Linked DNA regions of Homo sapiens. The protein of the gene in region 1 purifies or fractionates together with the protein of each later gene. This does not show direct contact. Each region holds a gene or a part of one and is shown in the gene's direction. Other genes may lie near its edges. The genes, in order: ZNF283, HCLS1 and DNAJC10.

Evidence for each region.
Region 2: the proteins of ZNF283 (region 1) and HCLS1 purify together in Homo sapiens (co-immunoprecipitation; one large-scale study listed by IntAct). This does not show direct contact.
Region 3: the proteins of ZNF283 (region 1) and DNAJC10 purify together in Homo sapiens (co-immunoprecipitation; one large-scale study listed by IntAct). This does not show direct contact.

The regions. Positions count from the first base shown.
Region 1 is NC_000019.10:43,825,958-43,830,207, forward strand, and holds the start of ZNF283 (zinc finger protein 283), read left to right. Parts: upstream 1-1,363; 5' UTR 1,364-1,487; intron 1,488-1,659; exon of another isoform or gene 1,660-1,733; intron 1,734-1,818; exon of another isoform or gene 1,819-2,024; intron 2,025-2,244; 5' UTR 2,245-2,324; intron 2,325-4,142; exon of another isoform or gene 4,143-4,250. UniProt on the Homo sapiens protein: May be involved in transcriptional regulation.
Region 2 is NC_000003.12:121,630,748-121,633,901, reverse strand, and holds the end of HCLS1 (hematopoietic lineage cell-specific protein), read left to right. Parts: intron 1-730; coding exon 731-835; intron 836-1,338; coding exon 1,339-1,570; intron 1,571-1,717; coding exon 1,718-1,801; intron 1,802-1,919; coding exon 1,920-2,056; 3' UTR 2,057-2,503; downstream 2,504-3,154. UniProt on the Homo sapiens protein: Substrate of the antigen receptor-coupled tyrosine kinase. Plays a role in antigen receptor signaling for both clonal expansion and deletion in lymphoid cells. May also be involved in the regulation of gene expression.
Region 3 is NC_000002.12:182,729,751-182,733,401, forward strand, and holds part of DNAJC10 (dnaJ homolog subfamily C member 10 isoform 1 precursor), read left to right. Parts: intron 1-97; coding exon 98-191; intron 192-1,279; coding exon 1,280-1,357; intron 1,358-2,748; coding exon 2,749-2,792; intron 2,793-3,651. UniProt on the Homo sapiens protein: Endoplasmic reticulum disulfide reductase involved both in the correct folding of proteins and degradation of misfolded proteins.

The DNA.
Region 1 (4,250 bases):
AGAGTAGTACTTGTGGGAGTCATTGAGCAAGTAACATGGGAAGAGAGGAGGCTGCTTCCACCAGTGGTTTTGGAGGTGGAGCAGATGCTGATGATAATGAAGTCCCAGATGGGAAACGGGGATGGGTGCCGAGGAAAGCTCAAGGACCCTGCAGATGAGGACTCAGACCCACGATACTGGATGAGGCATCCATGTCACCATGGGAGTCAACCAGGGTAGTGGCCTCAGCTGAGGCAGGGGAAAAGCTGGGATCCAAGAGCTCTAGTCTTCTCTTGATAAGCAAGAGAGACCAGGAGGTGAGAGATGGCAGAGGATGAGAGAGGTGATATCAGTGACCAGAAAGAGCCCCTAAAAAGTAACTTCCTTTTCTTTCTGTTAGTTTTAATATAAAATTTCGCTTTAATATTTTTAGACAATTCTTTTTTAAAAAAGTATTTATATCCAAAGGTTCTTACCACACCAACCACAGCCCCAATCTTTTTGCCCTAACCTCAGAATCAGTTAGTTGTCTCCTTTAAAACCTTTCTCTCTCTCACACACCCACACACACACACACGCAAACACACAGGAGAGAGAGAGAGGGAATATATAGTATTGTTTTTGGAGTATGAGTGTGTGCTTCAGAATAAATGGTTTCATACTCTATAAAAAATGAGATTCAAATTTTATAATCCATCAAGTTTTATTGGAACACAGCCATGCTGGATTGCTTGTGCATTGTTTATGGCCGCCTTTGCACTGCCATAAGTCTCCACGGTCACAATATCCACTCACTACCACTTATTGTTGTCTTTCAACAGCGGCATATAAAATCTGTAACACAGTTCATCTCACACCTAATAAAACAGACTCACACAGGCATAAATTTAGAAAACATCCCATGAACATAAACAGGTCCACGCAGGGTCCCAGACACCGAATCGAACTAAGAAACTCCCTCACAGCAAGACACACCCATCTGTTCAATTGCCAGACACTGTTCCAGGCGCTCATACCCAGGTAAACTGGTAGTGTCGCGCAGGTCATTTCCAGCGAACTTACCCCGGATTCCCTTGCTCGCTCACGTCTAAGTCCCCAGACACCCCAGTCCCATCTTCGCCTGTTCTAGACTCCAGAATGCGTTCCTTAGCGAAAGCTGAGAACCTTTTAATTCGCTCTCAGTCAACACCAAAGACCCTCAAGCAAAAGCAAGAGCTCCCGGGCGTCTTCGAAAAAAGCGCCTTTGACAGGTGAAGCCAAGTTGCATGCTGGGAGCATCCCTGCTGTCCAGGTTTCAACTTCCGGAGACTCTGCCGCTGTGGACTACATTTCCCAGAAGTCTCCGGGGCACAGGCCTTTTAGGGGCGGGGCGAGCTTGCCTGCCAGAAGCTCCTCTCCCAGCCTGCGAGCATTTCCAGGCTCTTGTTTCCCATCAGCCTCTGGGTCCAAACTAACCACAGGTCTCTGGGTCCTTTTCCGGTGTCCTTAAGGTTCTTGGACTCTGCATGGTGAGTTGGTCGTGTCTGTAGAAGTAATCAGCCCGGGTGAAGCTGGGAGGGCTCGGCTGGCTTTACTGGGGCCCGACTGGAACCGGCAGTGAGGGTGGGGGTGGCATCGGGGGTGCTGGAGGTGGGGAGGGCTGGGTCACGGACAGAGCGTGTCGTGTCCGGATCCTCAAGCCTGTGTGCACGCGAGCAGCCGAGGGACAGTGTGTCTCAGACGGCGTGGCAGGGACGGGGCGTGTCCCCACGGAGGTGGGTGCAGTTGTGAATGTGTGACGGGCTGACAGGGTGCGTGGCCGTATTTGTAAATGTGATTTGCTTTGACCAAATGCTCTAGGTTCCCTTTAGCCTGTCTTCGGGCCTGCCACAATTAAATGACCGCAAGAAAGAAGTCTATGCTAAGCCCCATAATGAACGTTTCAAGCAAGAAGGATGAGAATTTTAGATCTGGAAGTGTCCGCGGGACAGGATCTTGTCAAGACCTGATGGGGAAGTTCTAGAGGTGGGATTCCTAGAAGAGGGGCCTCTAGGAGCTCTTTGGTGGTGAGCTACATGTTTCAGAGCCATTGCAAGCAGACCTCTGTCCCCAAGAATTGCCCTCAACACAGAGACAGACTCTAGCCTCCCTTTTCATTCCGTTTGGTTTTGTGTGGATGAAGGCAGAAGTGGCCCCAGAGGGTGTTTTGCTCTTCTTTTTCTTTTTTAATTAAGTCTGTGACGCGCTAGAAATGCTGATGTCTCATGTTACTGTTTTTTCCCCCAGTGCTGCCAGGTTGCCAGATTTCTAAGAAGGAGTTTGAAGAGGAGAAAAGGATTTTTGCATGTTTAGAAATCAAGGTTCAGGTGAGGTTTTTTATACATACTTTTTAAATACATACACATACAATTACCTTTGCTTCTAGGTCATGAGAACATTTTCTTTCCTTGGCCTGAAATATCTTGACTGGGTTTTCCCAGTTACATGACCCGCCATGCTGGTACATATTTCCTCCCAGTGGCCCCCTATTGTTCTTCTCCACAATTCTTACCCACCTGTTCATATGGCAAATTGTTCAAATACTTCAGTGCATTATGATGCACTGAAGAGTTATAGAAAGGCACCTCTTGTAGATTGCTATTAGAGCATTATTTTATACTATGATTATTTGAAGAGATTAGTAATTAGGTGGTGTTATATAAACATTATTTTTTATCTTTTCTGTAGTCATAATTAAAATTTTTTTTTAACTTTTTTTAGAGACAAGGTCTCACTCTGTTGCCCAGGCTGAGTGCAGTAGTATAGTCATAGCTCAGTGCAACCTTGAAGTCCTGGGCTCAGGTGTTCCTCTGGCCTTGGCGTCCCAAAGTGCTGGGACTGCAGGTGTGAGCCACCATGCCTGGCCCATAGTCATGATGCTTAAAGAAAGGCAAGGTATAAGGGATTTTAAGTAAGGGAATGTTTCTGGCAGTAAATGACAATGTTGTCTGCTTTGTGAGGCTTTTAGGGGTGGAAATATGATTGAGCTTTGAACATAGGGATTTGTAATTTGCACCAACAAGAGTGGGGACTTTCAGATAATCTTTAGATAGAAATCTGTAACATTTCCAAGCATGACTTGTTTGAAGTCCAGCTTTCTGTGGCATGTAAGAAGCCGTACTATGTTGTAGTTAAAAATAAGGCCCTGGGGTCGGGCACAGTGGCTCACGCCTGTAATCCCAGCACTTTGGGAGGCTGAGGGAGGTGGATCATGAAGTCAGGAGATCGAGAACATCCTGGCTAACACGGTGAAACCCCGTCTCCACTAAAAATACAAAAAATTAGCTGGGCGTAGTGGTAGGCGCCTGTAGTCCCAGCTACTCGGGAGGCTGAGGCAGGAGAATGGCGTGAACCCGGGCGGTGGAGGTTGCAGTGAGCCAAGATTGCACCACTGCACTCCAGCCTGGGTGACAGAGAGAGACTCCATCTCGAAAAAACAGCAACAACAAAAAAATTAAGGCTCTGGATCCAAAGTATCTGAATTCAAATCCTGGCTCTGCCTGTTGGTAGCTGTGTGTGCTTAGACAATTGATTCAGGCCCTCTGTGCCACATCTATAAAATAGGGACAGGATAGTACCTACCTAATGGAGTTGATATGATGTAAGATGAGATATTATATGTAAAGCTTCGTAGAGCAGTGTCATCCCCATGATATGGGCTTACTGAATATTGAGTTGCTATTATTGGGCTCTTCTAGATTATTTCCCATAAACTTTTTATAGATTAGAGTAACAGAAGTATGAAGTTGATTGTGACGGGTGCTTGCAAATTAACTAAAAAAGTGGGGGCTGGGCACGGTGGCTCACACCTGTAATCCCAGCACTTTGGGAGTCCGAGGCGGGTGGATCACAAGGTCAGAAGTTCGAGACCAGCCTGGCCAGCATGGTGAAACCCCGTCTCTACTAAAAATACAAAAAATTAGCCGGGCATGGTGGCGGGTGGCTGTAGTCCCAGCTACTCGGGAGGCTGAGGCAGGAGAATTGCTTGAACCCAGCAGGCGGAGGTTGTAGTGTGCCGAGATCGCGCCACTGCACTCCAGCCTGGGTAACAGAGCAAGACTGTCTCACACACAGACACGAAAAAGTGACCACATGCTCAAATGATCTAGGACAGGAACACTTTTTTTGTTTGTTTGTTTAAACAGGTTCTTGGCCTTTTGCCTAGGCTGGAGTGCAGTGGCATGATCATGGCTCACTGTAGCCTTGGCCTCCTAGGCTCAAGCGATCCTCCCACCTCAGGCTCCCGAGTACCT
Region 2 (3,154 bases), on another chromosome or scaffold:
GTTCCATTTGAATTGGCAGAGAGTGGGAGAGGGTGTTCCTGGTAAATGTAACAGTGAAGACATGCATGGTGTGGTGGCTCATGCCTGTAATCCTAGCACTTGAGGTGGCCAAGGTGAGAGGATCACTTGAAGCCAGGAGTTCTAGACCAACCTGGGCAACATAGTAAGAACCTATCGCTATAAAAACAATTAAAAAATTAGCTGGGCATGGTGGTGTGTGCCTATAGTCCCAGCTACTTGGGAGGCTTAGAGAGGAGGATTGTTTGAGCCCAAGAGTTTGAGGCTACAGTGAGCTATGATCTCACTGTGCTCCAGCCAGGGCAGCAGAGTGAGACCCTGTCTCAAAAAATGCATAAAATAAAATAAAAAGAATGAAGATGGGCCGAGCGTGGTGGCTCATGCCTGTAATCCCAGCACTTTGGGAGGTCAAGGCAGACAGATCACGAGGTCAGGAAGTCAGGAGTTCAAGACCAGCCTGACCAACATAGTGAAACCCTGTCTCTATTAAAAATACAAAAATTAGCCAGGCATAGTGGCGTGTGCCTGTAATCCCAGCTACTCAGGGGGCTGAGGCAGGAGAATCGCTTGAACCTGGGAGGCGGAGGTTGCAATGAGCTGAGATCGCACCACTGCACTCCAGCCTGGGCTACAGAGCGAGAGTCTATCTCAAAAAAAAAAAAGGAGTGAAGATGGAGGCTTGCTTACTTGAGAGATGCTTCATTTTCCACAGGCCTGGCCTCCAGTTGGGACTCCTCCATCATCAGAGTCTGAGCCTGTGAGAACCAGCAGGGAACACCCAGTGCCCTTGCTGCCCATTAGGCAGACTCTCCCGGAGGTAAGCAAACCCCCAAAGATTCTCTGCCCCCACCCCATCTTCTCGAGTCTTAGGAATGTGGGCTGTGCAGGGTGGCCAACCATCCTGGTTTGCCTTGCACTGTTCTGGTGTTAGCACTGAAGACCTTGCCTTCTGGGAAACTCCTCTGTCCTGGGCAAACTAGTATAGATGATTATCCTAGCTGTGGTAGCTCAACAATGTGCTCTTGCTTCAATGTTTTCTTGGTCTCCCAAAGAATCTGACTTGTTTTCTACTTCCCTCCCCTCACACCTTTTACATTCTCTTCCCATTGTCTCTGGAATGTGTTTTGGGTGGGTGGGTGTGGGAGGAGATTGAAGAATGAAGATGGATGAAAGGCTGTGTTCCCCAGGAGAGGCTGTTAGATGGAGGCAAGGGTAGAGGGGAGAAGAGGCAGGGTGGTGAAGGGCGGGGGATCTTATCAGTCCTCCATTGATTCCTCCTGGAAAGTGGAAGTCACAGTGCTCCACACTGTCTCTTCTCAGGACAATGAGGAGCCCCCAGCTCTGCCCCCTAGGACTCTGGAAGGCCTCCAGGTGGAGGAAGAGCCAGTGTACGAAGCAGAGCCTGAGCCTGAGCCCGAGCCTGAGCCCGAGCCTGAGAATGACTATGAGGACGTTGAGGAGATGGACAGGCATGAGCAGGAGGATGAACCAGAGGGGGACTATGAGGAGGTGCTCGAGCCTGAAGATTCTTCTTTTTCTTCTGCTCTGGCTGGTGAGTGATGGGAGGAGAAGCAGGAGAATTTGCTCATGTCCAGGGGAGGGTAAGAGGAAGAAGAATTTCTCTATTGCCCCAGTAGGATCTTTCTCTGTTTGCCTTCTTCATGTTGATGATCCCATGTTTGTGTTTCTCATTATGCAGGATCATCAGGCTGCCCGGCTGGGGCTGGGGCTGGGGCTGTGGCTCTGGGGATCTCAGCTGTGGCTGTATATGATTACCAAGGAGGTAGGTTGGGAGTGGCCCGAGGAGCCTGGTACATGGAGGCCCCTGATATAAGACAGGGGGACATGTGAAAAGAGATTCATGTCTGACCATTCTAATATCCCCTCAACTTTCTCCCCAGAGGGAAGTGATGAGCTTTCCTTTGATCCGGACGACGTAATCACTGACATTGAGATGGTGGACGAGGGCTGGTGGCGGGGACGTTGCCATGGCCACTTTGGACTCTTCCCTGCAAATTATGTCAAGCTTCTGGAGTGACTAGAGCTCACTGTCTACTGCAACTGTGATTTCCCATGTCCAAAGTGGCTCTGCCTCCACCCCCTCCCTATTCCTGCTGCAAATGTCTAACCAGATGAGGTTCTGGACAGACTTCCCTCTCCTGCTTCATTAAGGGCTTGGGGCAGAGACAGCATGGGGAAGGAGGTCCCCTTCCCCAAGAGTCCTCTCTATCCTGGATGAGCTCATGAACATTTCTCTTGTGTTCCTGACTCCTTCCCAATGAACACCTCTCTGCCACCCCAAGCTCTGCTCTCCTCCTCTGTGAGCTCTGGGCTTCCCAGTTTGTTTACCCGGGAAAGTACGTCTAGATTGTGTGGTTTGCCTCATTGTGCTATTTGCCCACTTTCCTTCCCTGAAGAAATATCTGAACCTTCTTTCTGTTCAGTCCTAAAATTCGAAATAAAGTGAGACTATGGTTCACCTGTATGCTGAGGTAAATAGTACTTTTTGTGTGGCCCTCATGGCCTCAAATCTTAAGGCTCCAACCTTTCCTCTTCCAGGCATATCCAGGAAACTTTCTCTTACCACTGCCAATTCCCCTGTACCCTAGATGTCAAAGACTAGGCCTTTTCCTTAGGCTGAACTTTTTTTTTTTTTGAGAAGGAGTTTTGCTCTGTCACCCAGGCTGGGGTGCCGCAGTGTGATCTCAGCTCACTGCAGCCTCCACTTCCTGGGTTCAAGAGATTCTCCTGCCTCAGCCTCCCGAGTACCTGCAACTACAGGCGTGCACCACCATGCCCGGCTAATTTTTGTATTTTTAGTAGAGATGGGGTTTCCCCATGTTGGCCAGGCTGATCTTGAACTCCTGACCTCAGATGATCGCCCCCCGCTTAGCCTCCCAAAGTGCTGGGATGACAGGCATAAGCCACTGCACCTGGCCTCCTTAGGCTGCATTTTAAACCCAGTCCAAAACAGATCAGCCTGAGCAATGGCTGGGCATGGTATTGTGGGCCTATAGCACCAGCTACTCAGTAGTCTGAGGTGAGAGAATCACCTGAGCCTGGGAAGTCAAAGTAAAGGCTTCAGTGAGCTGTGATCACACCACTGCACTCCAGCCTGGGCGACAGAGTGAGAAGC
Region 3 (3,651 bases), on another chromosome or scaffold:
TTCAAGATAATGTAAAAATCAAACTCTTTGGTATTATTTTTATTGAGTTTTAAAAAGAAAAAGTAAAAGATGTTTCTCTTCTTACAAAAACCAATAGGCCCCAGTGAAATATCATGGAGACAGATCAAAGGAGAGTTTAGTGAGTTTTGCAATGCAGCATGTTAGAAGTACAGTGACAGAACTTTGGACAGGTAATTTTATTTTCTTAATTTGCTTGATTTTCAGGGTATTTTGAAATCAGTATTTTGTTTTTAATGGCAATATTAACATTTTGGTCATGGTATTGAAATTTTAAAGTGTCTTTTCCATGTTTCTTAGAAGGGAATTGTGTCATTTACTCTGAACTCTGCTGAATTTAACAAACTAGTTAAATTTTTACAGAAACTTGAACTATCGAGATATGGGAAATGGATATGAGATAGGGCTACGGTAAAAAAGGCATCTCTCAAAGTGCAAAAAATGTTTTGTAATACAAGTGTTTTATTGCTTTTTTAAATATGCTTATCAATCAGTAAATTCAAACCTATTCTGTTTAATTTTAAAGTTTAAAAATGCTTCTAATCTTAGGCTTTTAACTCATTAACTGCCTTTAGGCAGATTAAGCTAATAATAGTATTTGTGGCTCAAGATGTTCATTTTATTCATTGAGTAAAGTTACGTGTCAGAAACTATTAAATAGTGGGGCTGCAGTAATAAAATATATAGTCCCTGCCATCAGTGACTTCATTAGTGAGGAAAACATTAGTAAACAATTAAAATGCAATATAGGTACTATTATTATAGAGCTTAAGGGAGCATAAGATGTGTAAAACAACCCAGTTGGGGAAAAGAGAAAGAGTTAGAAAATACTTCTTGAAAGAAGTCATATCCAATCTGTCATGAAAATGAATAGGAAGCCTTAGGAGATCACTGTGTATTTGGGGAACTGGCAATACTTCATGAATCTGACAAAAAGATCAATAATTGGGTCAAGTGGTGTGGGGAAATATAATATAGCTGGCTAAATAGGTAGGCAAAGCTCAAGTCACAGGGGCCTAACTTGCCAATTTGAGTTTTTTTCTTAATGAAATAATGAATTTAGGTTTTATATGATGAAAAAATTGGAGAGCCATTGAAGGAATTTGTCATACTCAAGAGTATCTTTGGAAAGATAACTGGTAAAACTCAGAGTGGATTAGAAGAGGGTGAGATTAGAAAGGAAAAATTACTTAGAAGACTGTTTCCATTAGTAAAGGAGTAATAGGTGATCAGAATTTGCTTTTTTTCTTTTATTTTTAAGGAAATTTTGTCAACTCCATACAAACTGCTTTTGCTGCTGGTATTGGCTGGCTGATCACTTTTTGTTCAAAAGGAGGAGGTAATACTATTTTTTAATTTTGTTGGAATGAGAACATGACATTTAAATTTTTGGTGACAGTTTTAAGTATGCTACTGTAATTGATTATTAAGTACTAGAAACTACAATTTATGCCCAGGATTACAATTTTTTTACTTAATGAATATTCGCCTTTTTCATTATTTTACACATGAGGTTATTATTCATTTTTTAATGTATCCTCTATGTTTTTATGTTCAGTGGACCAGTTTTTCAGCTTAGACTCATGATAAATTGTACCTTCAGATAGCCACAGATGTTATTTGACAATTTGCAAAAATAACTAGTTGTTTACAGCTCTAACCCCTCCCAAAATAATAATTTTTTGGAAATATGGACTTTGCTTCATGCTTATATATATCTCTCAAACATACATAGATTTGCCTCATACAATTATATACTTGAAGATGACAGCTTCTTCTAGGAACCTTTCCTTGAATAAATTAAGTTGAAAATTCAGTACTCTGCATAGCAAGCCGTAAACTGTAAACTGTGTTCAAGCAATGTGGTTGGTTAAAAATTGTTCTAAGACAACAAAATATTATAACTCAATGTATTTGCATGTATTTAATCCCAACATGAGTCTTCTCCCCACATTTCATCTCTCAGCCTTCATGCTGCTATATTGAAAAGGTACTGCCTTGTAACTAAAATCAACCCATTACCCCATCCTGTAAGGCCTATGCTAGAAAGACACTGCCTTGCAGCAAAACGTCAGCCTTAAACTTAACTAATCACCAAGGGATTTTGTCTCATTTTGGCCTATTGCCCAAATTTCTGTTCATCCACACATGAACAAAAGTTCTTACATTCTCTGAGATTCTTTTACTTCTCACCTCAAGTAAATTGCTTCTCCCTGTCTTTGTAGGCTCTGTGATGCTATAGCTCTCTTTCTTCTAAATCTTCTCTCATTGTATTCTAGTGTTCATATTTGCAGAACTTTCATAAAAATAGTGAAGGCACTATTTAAAGATTTTATTGTATTTTGAGGATCCTTTATATACTTCTATCAAATATCTATTACATTTTATTTCCCCCCAATTTTGAGATCTCTTGGATAAAATGGATTGTTGATAGGAGGAGAGATTGAGAGTATTAACCTAAAGAGAGAAAATTACTTTTTCTCTGTAGCTAGACATCCTAGAAATTAAAGGGAGAGAATGAAAGAAAGAGGGAGCGAGGGAGTGTGTGTGTGTTTTTGTGTGTGTGTTTGTATGTGTGTGTGTGTAGAAGGATTTCCATATCTATCAATAGAGTCCAGCTCAATTAATTGCCTTCGAATGAACATGGTAATTTGGGGGAAAGGCAAATGCAAGTATTTTCATCAGGCTTAATAAAGGTAAAACTGCCTCATAAGGTTTTTTTGTCCCCAGATTGTTTGACTTCACAGACACGACTCAGGCTTAGTGGCATGTTGGTAAGCATCAATCATTTTGTAAAACTATATCACCATGTAAAGAAACACATTTAGAAATTGATTTGAAACATTTTCTTCCCTTATTTCTTGAACATTTAACTCACCTATTTGTAATCTTATTTTCTGATGACTGTATTCATAGCTATGTGTTTTTTCCTGAATAATTAGTTACGTTCAATAAATTTTAACGTGGTATCAATTCTAAGTGTCATTTACTTTGTAAGTATTCTGTAATTTATAAGTTCCTCTTCAACTGAAGTTACATGTTAGTGTTTTTGTCATTTCCCAACTTTATCTTTTGTTGTTTTCTTTTTTAGTCATTTTTAAATGTATATAGCTCTCATGTTATGGCTGGGAAGTAGCCTGAGTGATGTTGATTTTTTAACACCATTGAAATACCCTTTGTGGCTTTGTGGCTTGACAAAGCCACACAAATTGTCAGTTTTGAAAATTTTGGAAATTCTTTGTGAGCTTGAATATAATAATGTTATGTTAGGTGTAATATATGTTAGGTGTAGTATTACATTTATTAGATCAGATTTATTAATCATGTTATTTGTTTTTGGACTACATGATCTATAATTTCTAAGAGGGATGTATTAAAATCTCTACCATCCATCATTGATTTATCTATTTCTTATATTTCTGTCAGTTCTTCCTTTACATATTTTGACATTATATTGTTGGCAGCAGTATGATCATTATATCCTTTGGCGGCTATTTATTTCTCTTTGTGCATTATGGATTTGTTTACACAAATTCTGTTTTATTTGATATTAAAATCACTAACTTAGTATGCTTTTGTTTCATTCCCTTTCTTATTTCACCCTATGCCTAGGCCTTTAGTTTTTCAGCACTA